Homo sapiens: one gene and its partners. The protein of the gene in region 3 interacts with the protein of the main gene of each other region in a pairwise test. Each region holds a gene or a part of one and is shown on either strand. Other genes may lie near its edges.

What was found.
Region 1: the proteins of TXNDC11 (region 3) and RPS6KA5 interact in a two-hybrid assay, tested with the Homo sapiens proteins (one large-scale study listed by BioGRID and IntAct).
Region 2: the proteins of TXNDC11 (region 3) and STAT5A interact in a two-hybrid assay, tested with the Homo sapiens proteins (one large-scale study listed by BioGRID and IntAct).

The regions. Positions count from the first base shown.
Region 1 is NC_000014.9:90,847,491-90,851,141, forward strand, and holds the end of RPS6KA5 (ribosomal protein S6 kinase alpha-5), read right to left. Parts: 3' UTR 371-3,651; downstream 1-370. UniProt on the Homo sapiens protein: Serine/threonine-protein kinase that is required for the mitogen or stress-induced phosphorylation of the transcription factors CREB1 and ATF1 and for the regulation of the transcription factors RELA, STAT3 and ETV1/ER81, and that contributes to gene activation by histone phosphorylation and functions in the regulation of inflammatory genes.
Region 2 is NC_000017.11:42,298,445-42,302,095, reverse strand, and holds part of STAT5A (signal transducer and activator of transcription 5A), read right to left. Parts: intron 2,346-3,651; coding exon 2,215-2,345; intron 1,967-2,214; coding exon 1,815-1,966; intron 1,382-1,814; coding exon 1,226-1,381; intron 822-1,225; coding exon 642-821; intron 1-641. UniProt on the Homo sapiens protein: Carries out a dual function: signal transduction and activation of transcription. Mediates cellular responses to the cytokine KITLG/SCF and other growth factors. Mediates cellular responses to ERBB4.
Region 3 is NC_000016.10:11,681,148-11,683,935, forward strand, and holds part of TXNDC11 (thioredoxin domain-containing protein 11), read right to left. Parts: intron 1-2,788. UniProt on the Homo sapiens protein: May act as a redox regulator involved in DUOX proteins folding. The interaction with DUOX1 and DUOX2 suggest that it belongs to a multiprotein complex constituting the thyroid H(2)O(2) generating system.

The DNA of each region.
Region 1 (3,651 bases), on a different chromosome or scaffold from region 3:
GCGTGCCCTCCCTCAATCATCTGCTCCGGGGCTCATTTTCTGGAACCCTCGAAGGATGGGGGCTTGATGAAGGGAGGCATGAATGGGTCCTAGGGGAAAAGACCTTTCAGAACACTAAATGGGCGAGTGGCTTCCTTCTCCTTTTAAGCCGTCCTTCAGGGCAGTTCAGAAAACGCTGCATTCAGTTATCCACACACGGTTTTCATTCAAGCATAAGTTAATGTGAGTCTTCTAAGATGTAAATTCACTGATACAGATTGTTGTGCTTCTTTAACACTCTCACTTATTTCCAAGATCCAACATACCTACCCCCACGCCCCGAAAAGCAAACAAACAAACAAACAAACAAACCACAAGTCCAAGTCAGATATCAGGCATTTGTACATTGACAGGTTTATTCTTAAAGCTTGAACAAATACATCTTTACACACACACAAGTTGGTAAAAAGTAAGCCCTTACTGCTTTGTTAAAAATAAAACCCATACATAAAGCTTTCCGGTCAAATTCCCGAAACATGAAAACATCACATTTCTACAATACATCTGCTTTTTTGATTCATGTGTGTTTTCAACACAGCTCAACAACTCATTCCGATCTACCCAAACAAAGAGAAAACTAACTTCCAGACCATGAAGGAAAAAAAAATACATGCCTCTTATAACTGTTAAAGACAAGTAGCTATAGAATTCTGAAAATTCTCAATAAATAGTTACTAGTATAAAAATGCTTAACTCCATATAGCTCACCTTTAATCAAAGGCAGTACCAGTTATCGCTATAATAAAGCACTCAAAGAACATCGAAATAACTTCATATCTATAGCAACGAAGGGAACATGGAACATTAGCCCTCCTAAACAATTCCAGAAGAGGGAAGTTCATTATGAATTAATACTTGGAAGATTCTAGCCCAGCTAGAATAGATTTTAAAAAACTACAATAAAGTATATAAATATGAAATTCAGAAAAGCAGATAAAGAAAAGCTGTCACTTAATAACACAGGTGGCAGCAACCAAAAATATCATTCCCTCTGGGGGGAATTAATGCTAGATTAATGTGAATAAAATAAAGGAAAATGACATAAAATGAAGATACAAAATAAAATTGATCCTTGATGTGAGAATAACTGTATTCCTTGCATGTTCAGAATGTCCTTATGTTCTTCTAGAGAGACTTAGAAAAAAAAAGCCATGCAAATAAAAATCTCATTACATGCCAGCTGAGTGACTTGCAAAGGTTTGCCCCAGAAGGGCTTTTTAAAGAGGCTAAAGACATTCTAATTGCCATCCAAATTGATGTTTACACCAAAATAAGAAGAAATCATCTACTCCCAAAGCAAATCCTATCTATGGACTTCATAGAATCCCTTATACTTTGTAACATTTTCTGCTTCCTTCTTAAAAACCTAGGGGGAAGGTGAGCTCCTGGGACATAAATACGCAGGGAAAGAACCTCATTAAGCCAGGCAGAGGATGGCAAAGATCAACAAAAGAAAAGAGTCCACCGCACTCCAGCCTGGGCAACAGAGCAAGGCCGCATCTCTAAAAAGTAATAATAAATAAAAGGAAAAAGATGCAAGCAAATTTCTGCAAATAGAAGCGTTCACCCCACAGATGAGAAAAGGGGACTCAGTCGTAACCAGGAGAGCCCGCGCAGGCACCTTGGTGGTCTGAATCTAATAGATGCCACTCTCAAATTCTGAGGAGGATGAATTAGCTACTGCTTATCAGGCAACTAACAGAGCCGGCAACAGAAAGGTTACAAGGCCACCTTCGCAACCAGCCCTTTGAAACTGGAAACAAAGTTTTGGCCAGAGATGAACACGCACCCATATGTCTGAAGACAAAAGTTTTTTAAGAGGGCACGGACTCCGGATCTTTTATCTTATGAATAGATCCACTTTGGTTGGTAATTCTTCTGCCTGACAGGCTGCCTTGGGCTACTACACAGCTGATATGAGTGGACAGCAAAGAGCTGTGTAAACCTGTCTAAAACAGTGCACTTGGTGGCTACATACGGCTAATCGCTGCTAGTGTTTAGAGTCTGTGGCTGACTCATCTCAGTACGGTGACCTGGACTGCAGCAAGATCGGGCACAGCTTCCCTTAGGTGGGAGAAAGAAGGAATACCATGGAGGTGTGTGTGGATGTGTACGCACACAGGAGAGAGTCGGGGCTGGTGGGGAGGCAGAGAGAGAGAAAGGAAAGGCCAAAAGGAAAGTTAAAGGGATTTACTTTATTGATGCTAATGTAGGGGTCAGCTAACAGTAACAAGCTACTACTATTATTTCCCAAAGATGGAACAAAGGGTGACGTTACCCGTTGATGCTAGATGATGTCCTCAAACCTGACGTAGTAAAGGAAAATCAACACATTGTCTCACAGCTTTCTTACCTGGCAGCTGGCACCACATTAGAATCTCCATGGCCGTGCATGGTGGCTCATGCCTGTAATCCCATCACTTTGGGAGGCCCAGGTGGCAGGATCGCTTGAGCCCAGCCTGGGCAACACTGTGAGACCCCACCTATATTTAAAACAAAGGAATCCCCAGTCTCTTTGAAGTATGTGCCTTAGAAGGAAAGTTTCAGGACACTCTGGCACTTTTTTTCTAGTCTGGGAAGGGATCTGTGGGCTTTCTACAAGGGAGCAAACAACCTCAATTCTTTCCTCTGGGATCCCGTCAGCTTCTCCTTCCCCAGAGGTCCTGACATTGCTTACCAGCCATTGACCTGAAATGAACTGCTTCAACGTGTTCTGAAGGACCTTTAAATAAGAGATGGTAATAAATCCAGCTGCTACAGAATGACAAGAAGAACAGTCATGATTGTAGTCAATTTTAAAAATAGACATCCTTTCCCTTCTTGCTCCCTCCCATAAATACTAAATGGAAGAAGACACAAATAGAAAGAGAAGAAAGTATTTTTAATCTATTAAGAAAATGAAGAAAACAACCTAATCAATGTGGGAAACCATACAAAAAAAAAAAAAAAAAACAGAAAATATTACATAACCAGGCCTTTTAAATAAGGATGGAATTCAATAAAAAACTTAAAATGCTTACATCTTCTGAAATAACCCATGATTAGCTCCAAGTTTTAGAAAGTTCTTGAACAAAAGGTACACATCAAAGTAGTGAGGTAGCAGCCCCCACTTTCCCAAAAAGTTTTCAGGAAAAGGCTGCACAAGCACCTGTTGGTGAGGTCACCAGGAAGGAATCTGCTTCCGGCAGGAAATTGCACTGGGTGAGCTCTAAGGCTCCTAAACTCTAAGATTCTCGTATGTGCTGAAAACACTGCTATGACGACAGTTTGATCTGATCATCTATGCATTCCTCTGAAATAAATGAAGTCAATTCAAATAAGACATTCTACAAATTAGCCAAGCACAATGATATATTTTAAACCCACACTCAGACCGACAGTGTACACCATAAATTTGTACTAGAACAATACCCATAAATATAAAAAATCTACTTAATTTTATACTTTGTTAGTTCCTACTTCAAAATGCTAGTCAATATTCACTACAGAGAAGTGGGTAAAGATACTTTTATTTTATTTTTTTTTTGAGACAGAGTCTCACTCTGCCCCCCAGGCTGGAGTGCAGTGGCGTGATCTCGGCTCACTGCAAGCTCCGCCTCCCGGGTTCATGCC
Region 2 (3,651 bases), on a different chromosome or scaffold from region 3:
TTCCTAGGCTCAAATGATCCTACCACCTCAGCTTCCCGAGTAGCTGGGACTACAAGTGCGTGCACCACCATGCCCAGCTAATTTTAAAACTTTTTGTAGCGATGAGGGTCTCCCTATATTGTCCAACTCAAACTTTTGGGCTCAAGTGATCCTCCGACCGTGGCCTCCCAAAGTGCTGGGATTACAGGGGTAAGCCACGGCATCTAGCCTAGCACCAAGCTTGTTGCAGGGACAGGGAAGGCATCTGAGTAGGAGGAAGGCAGTGTACCATCTGTCCCAGATTTAATGATGGTTTGACATGATTGTTTGAATTTACAATGGTGTGAAGCAATACACTTTCAGGAGAAAGTGGTGTGATAGTCTCTCACAATGCTGGGCAGTGGCAGTGAGCCTCAGCTCTCCGGCAGCCACACCATCCCCAGGGTAAAGAACGGATACTCGGCTGGGTGTGGTGGCTCACGCCTATCAACTCAGCACTTTGGGAGGCTGAGGTGGGAAGACTGCATGAGTCCAGGAGTTCGAGACCAGCCTGGGCAACACGGTGAACTAGGGGACAAGACATAGCTGGATGCAAGGACAAAGCGGGGGGTGCAGGTCCCCCACACCTAAGCTTGGGCAGGGGAAGGGAGAGGCACAATTACTTGCGGGTGTTCTCATTTTTAAGCAGAGACTTGGCCTGCTGCTCACTGATGATGGTGGCCTTCACCTGGGGGGGATTCATGTGCACGTTCAGCTTCCCGCCCACCAGCAGGCGTACGGTGGCTGCAAACTTGGTCTGGGTCTTCAGGACCTGAGGAGGCTGCTTCTCAATGATGAATGTGCTGCATGGGACACAGGGACAGACACACGATGAGGGGTTGGCGCAGGGGAAAGGGCTCTCAGTCCCTCTGTGGTGGGGGTGGGGCTGCCTCCCATGGGGCTCAGGAGGTGATGAGCTCGGGCACAACCTCTGTTCCCGGGGAAGCTGTGAGAGTCCAGGGAGAGGATGGAGAGGGGAGTGAGATAACACAGCAGCTGGCATGGGCTGCGGCCCAGGGTATCTCTTGCAGTGTCCACAGGAGAAACTGGGCAAGGGCGGCACCTAGCAGCCACAGCAACTGGAGATGGAGTTGGGAGGGATGAGAGGCAGGAAGTGGATCTGCTGGTCTGGAAGGCACCTGCAGCTCCCCCCACGCAGGCAGGAGCTGCCCCAAGCTCCTGGGCATGGCAAACAGGCAGCAGTCACCTGGTCACCAGGGCTGAGATAATGTCCGTGATGGTGGCGTTGACCTCGGCCAGCATCTCCTCCACTGGGCCGGGGATGGGCAGCTGCTGGCAGAGGTGCTCAGCCCTGCGGATCTGCTGCCGGTTCTGCCAGATGATCTCGGCCAACTTCTCACACCTGCACGAGAGCCCCAAGGCCAACAGGAGGACAATGGCTTCTCCTCACAGACGCCAGGCCCCAAGACACAGCTCCCGTTCCCCCAGGAAGGCTCTGTGCTTTCGCCACACTTCCCACCCATGGGAAGAGCAGAGCTCCCTGCCTCCCAGAATTAGAGACGTACACAGGAGGGGCGACCCTGACTAGGCCCAAACAGCCCAAGCATCACCCCACACACCCGAGCCCCATCCCACCCCCAGGACAGCAGCCCCCTTCCTGGGGGAGGTGCACAGGATGGGGACCAAAGTCTGATTGAGGAACCAGGCTCCCTGGAGAAACAAGAGCTGTCCCAGGATGGAGGGGGCCTGCTGCAGGAGCCAGCACAGGACGCAGAAGCAGCCGGGGTCCCCACCAGCCCCTCCTGCCCTGCCCGCTGGCCGCCCCACACCATTACCAGGACTGTAGCACGTCCAGGCTGCCCTCGGGGGGCCCGCCGTTCCCGGCCAGCTGCTGCCGCCGCTTCCACTGGATCAGCTCGTCATCCAGGATGATGGTCTGCTGCTTCCGCAGCAGCTGCAGGGTCTTCTGGTGCTTCTCGGCCAGCTCCTGAGGGAAGGGAGGAGAGCAGCCCCTTCTGGGCTCCCAGAGAACACCGCAGGGCCTCGCTGGGAAATGGCAGGGCAGGGCCCAGGCCGTTCCCTCTCCCCAAGCTGCTCTGCCTCGCAAGGCCCCCAGGAAAAAAGGCCTCCTGCCCTCCCAGGTTCTGCTCTCATGCTGGTCCCAGCCCTCCCTCGGGTCCCCAGAGACTGACTTCATGGCACCCACGCCCAGGAGAGGCCCAGGACCCCACTCACCACGCGGTACTGCTGCAGTGTCTGTGCCTCACGCTGCAACCAGGCCTCCAGAGACACCTGCTTCTGCTGGAGGGCCGTCTCCCGGCTCAGACGCTCCTGGGGGCTCAGCTGGGCCAGCTGGGCAAACTGAGCTAGAGGAGAGAAGAGGAAACCATGACCATCACCTCCTAGTGTCCAACAGGAGGCCTAGAGAAGCCCACTCACCTGTTCTGGAGCGAGACCCTCCCAGGCTCAGACACTGCATCAAGAGCAAGTCGGGGTTCCTGACAGCCAGGGGGGCCAAGATGAATGGCGCCTCAGGAGGCGCCTCTGGGCCCTGCTCACCAGCCTCCTGACTCTGAGCCGTCCCCTCTGGGGGCACACGGGTGCTGGGGCAGCTGGGGAGGAGGCCTGCCTGCCTCCTGCCCGCCTGCCTCACAGGGCTGCCAGCCCTCTTCTCGCGTCCCAGCATGGGTCCAGGCTGTCTGGGGTGTAAGTGTGCCCATGCCCTTGACTGCAGGTGAACCTGGGCAAATCGCTTTCCTTTCCTGTGCCTCAGCTTCCCCACGTGTAAAACGGGAGATTCTCAGCACCTGCCTCAGTGGGGTGCTTGAAGATTAAATACATGAGGACATGGAAGATGCCAGAAAGCTGCCTGACATGGGTGAGCTCTGTGTGAGGTTCGTGCTTCTTGGTTAACGGGGAACAGGACAGAGAGAAGAGGTGACAGAGACAAGCAGCTGCTCGGCCCCATCCCTCCCGCAGCAAGGCCTCTTCAGGGAACCCCAGCCCCGGCGGCTCTGTCTCGTCCCTGAGCACAGCAGTCCCTCCTCAGGGGAGGATGAGATTCTTGAGGGGCTGGAAGGGGCCCAGCATGTTTGTCCAGGTGGGCTCACTGTGAGCCCAGCCGACCAACCAGGGGAGACAGACAGATAGACAGACCGCAGAGGGAGAGCGTGTCCAGGGCCACTGGGGATGCAGAGCCACCAAGATTCTCTCAGGAAAGGGAGGCCGAAGGGAGGCGGCTTCCCTCCACACCATCTGTGAGGAGTCTCATTGATGGCGGGACAGGGAATAAGTCAGGCCTCACTAGCTTTTAAAAAGTATCCATCATGGGGCTGGGCGCAGTGGCTCACGCCTGTAATCCCAGCACTTTGGGAGACTGAGGCGGGCAGATCACGAGGTCAGGTGATCGAGACCATCCTGGCTAGAGACCATCCTGGCTAACACAGTGAAACCCCATCTCTACTAAAAACACAAAAAATTAGCCGGGCATGGTGGCGGGTGCCTGTAGTTCCAGCTACTAGGGAGGCTGAGGCAGGAGAATGGCGTGAACCCAGAAGGTGGAGCTTGCAGTGAGCCGAGATTGGGCCACTGCACTCCAGCCTGGGCGACAGAGCTAGACTCTGTCTAAAAAAAAAAAAAAAAAAGTATCCATCATGTGCCAGGCTCGGTGGC
Region 3 (2,788 bases):
GGCAACAGAGTCAGACCTTGTCTCAAAAACAGAAAACCAAAAAACCCCACAACAACTGAAAACACATCGTGGCCCTGTCAAGTGGGCCCATGGAAGAATACCAGACGCTGGACCTGCCCCCACGTTCTGCGGCACAAGCCTGGTCTTGTAAGGCAGAGTAAACGTGAATTACTTCCCAGAAAAAGCTGCCAAGATCCCTCAGGATGTCTACCTCCAGACATTTACAGGACAGTGACATCCGTGAGCATGCTATCTGCTAACTAAGAGGTCTTGGTGCACTCTCCATCAATGTCCCTAATGGGCACACTAAAATACTGCCACACTTTGTGAAAGTAGCAGGGACAGAGAATGTCAACAGTCTACTTCCAGGAAAGCAGTCATGTGAAACTATGGTGGGAAGAGGTCCCCATGTCTATGCAACTCTCCTCTAACCCTGAGGGAGTGGCAGGGCACACCTCTAAAAAACTGTGATTCTTCCCCTGGGACACATCAGAGTCTCTTGGTGGACAGGAGCACCCATCTCCCCCTCATCACCCTGGCCCAGGGCCAGGCCAGAGCACCTATATTTTGCAATGTCACACAGAGTCTGACGCAAGTGCTGGCTGGAGGAGCACCTGCTCGGTGGAGCAAGTGGCTCCAAGATGCCTCTGCACAGGAAGGCTATGTCTCCCTCAAGGCCCCACCCCTTCCTCTTCCTCCCAAGGACAGGCTCTTGCATTTTTTTCCTTCATGATTTTTATAAATCAAGACATGCTCTTTGTAGACAATTTGCAAGGGATGTAAAAACATACAAGCAGCACCTTCAAATCACTTGCAATCTCACTCCTCTGAAGTCATCAATGTTAACACCTCAACATTTTCCCCTCTGTGAACATCTCCACCTAGCACATGCACAAGTTTATATTTTATCACAGTAAATATACAATTTCATATTCTTTTCACTAAAAATAGCATAAGCAGGTGGACAATGAAAAAGGTCTTACTACATGTTATCCAACAGCCTTTTTCATTTCCTCTTTTGCAAGCTGTCAGCTCACGCTGCTTGCCCATTTACCTTCTGGCTAAACCAAACACTCGCTTGGGACCAGCTCATGATGAGCATACTTTACTTCTACCATTTATTTTTAGGAAATGAGAAAAATTCCATTCCAAAGCCATAAAGCTTTGGTTTACCAACATCCTTACATTAAAAGAGAAGTGGACAGTCTTCTTATGTTCGATATTTAGAAACGACAAGGGTAAGGGCCTGCAGCAAGTGCCCAGCATGGGGCCGGAGAAATGCGCACATCTTCACGTTTCCCACACCAGGCAGCCTAAGAACGAAGGTCACTCAGCCCAGACGCAGGCCTCCAGATGACGCCCCACCCTGCCACCTGTTCCGCCTGTGTCTCTCTACACAGATGCATTTCTGCCAGCTGCTGAGAACTTCTTCATTAAAAGGCATGTGCTGGGTGCTAAGATTTTCATATTTTTTCAAACTATGCTTGGAATTCAAAAATTATACGTCATTAAACTACATGCCCAACTCCTGGCCCACACAGATGAAAGTGTTAGTGTTACTGTCCGTGATTCCTGGACTATGTGGTAATTTAAACACTTCTTAGAAAGAAAAAGCCTCATCACAACTCAGTCAGCAGTAGAAAAGGGTGAGTCACATTCTGTTTTTAGTGCATGATGTGACAAGACCCTACTACCACAGAAGTACTCCCGCAAAAATTCTTTGAGATACAAAGCAAAAACCAAGGGAATGATTCAATAGATATGAAGGAAACACTCTCCTAGAGAAACATGACAAGCTGAATCGCAAAAGGGAGGCAGGAAATTAAAACAGCAAACGTCATACATGCGAGCCAGGGAACTCCCTAAATGATGCTGCAGACACTTTCCCCTGGAGAGAAGATACTGTCAAAGTCATGTGAGTGGGTCCCCAAAAGGACTCAACTTTCTAAAAACCAAAGGGAATCTATAAAAAGGGAGCAAACATCCAGTGTATTAGGCTCTAAAGGACCAAGAGTTAATTTCTTTTTCCACTAAAACATCTGCATCTACGTTTACTAACTGGAAGTCCGCTCCCCCTTGTTAATGTCCTGCTTGCAGGGGCTTCCGGGGTAGTTGCCGTTAAGAACTGCACCTGGAATACTGATTAGGCAAGTGTGAAAAAATCAAGCGACCATCCCATGGCGGACGTTCACAGCAGTCTGCACGCATGGGAGAAAACCCCTTTGTAGGCCTCCTGGAATCCGAGAAAAGGACGTGCCATGGGTAAGAAAGCCACCCTGTCCTCTGTACGAGAGGGATGAGGAGCTGCTGGGAGGCCAACTGAGAGACAAGCAAGTGGAAGGCTTGGGGCAGGCAGGGCTCCACAGATTCTCTGCTGTTTTGCCCCACACAAACATTGCACCACTGCACTCCAGCCAGGGCAACAGAAGAATCCTGTCAGTCTCTGCGTCCTCCATATGTTCATACAGGCCATGAAAGCTAAGAATTCTCACGGCCACATTCAAGCTCGGGTAAGAGATAGACTGGGAAAAACAACCTTTAAAAGATCCATACCACACATAACATCCTGACACTACAACCCTTTTATGTCCCTAAGGACACTTTTTTTTTTTTTTTTTTTTTGAGGCAGAGCCTCGCTCTGTCACCCAGGTTGGAGTGCAGTGGTGTGATCTTGGCTCACTGCAACCTCCGCATCCCAGGTTCAAGAGATTCTCGTGCCTCAGCCTCAGAGTAGCTGGGATTACAAGCATATGTCACCATGCCTGGCTAATTTTTGTATTTTTTGTAC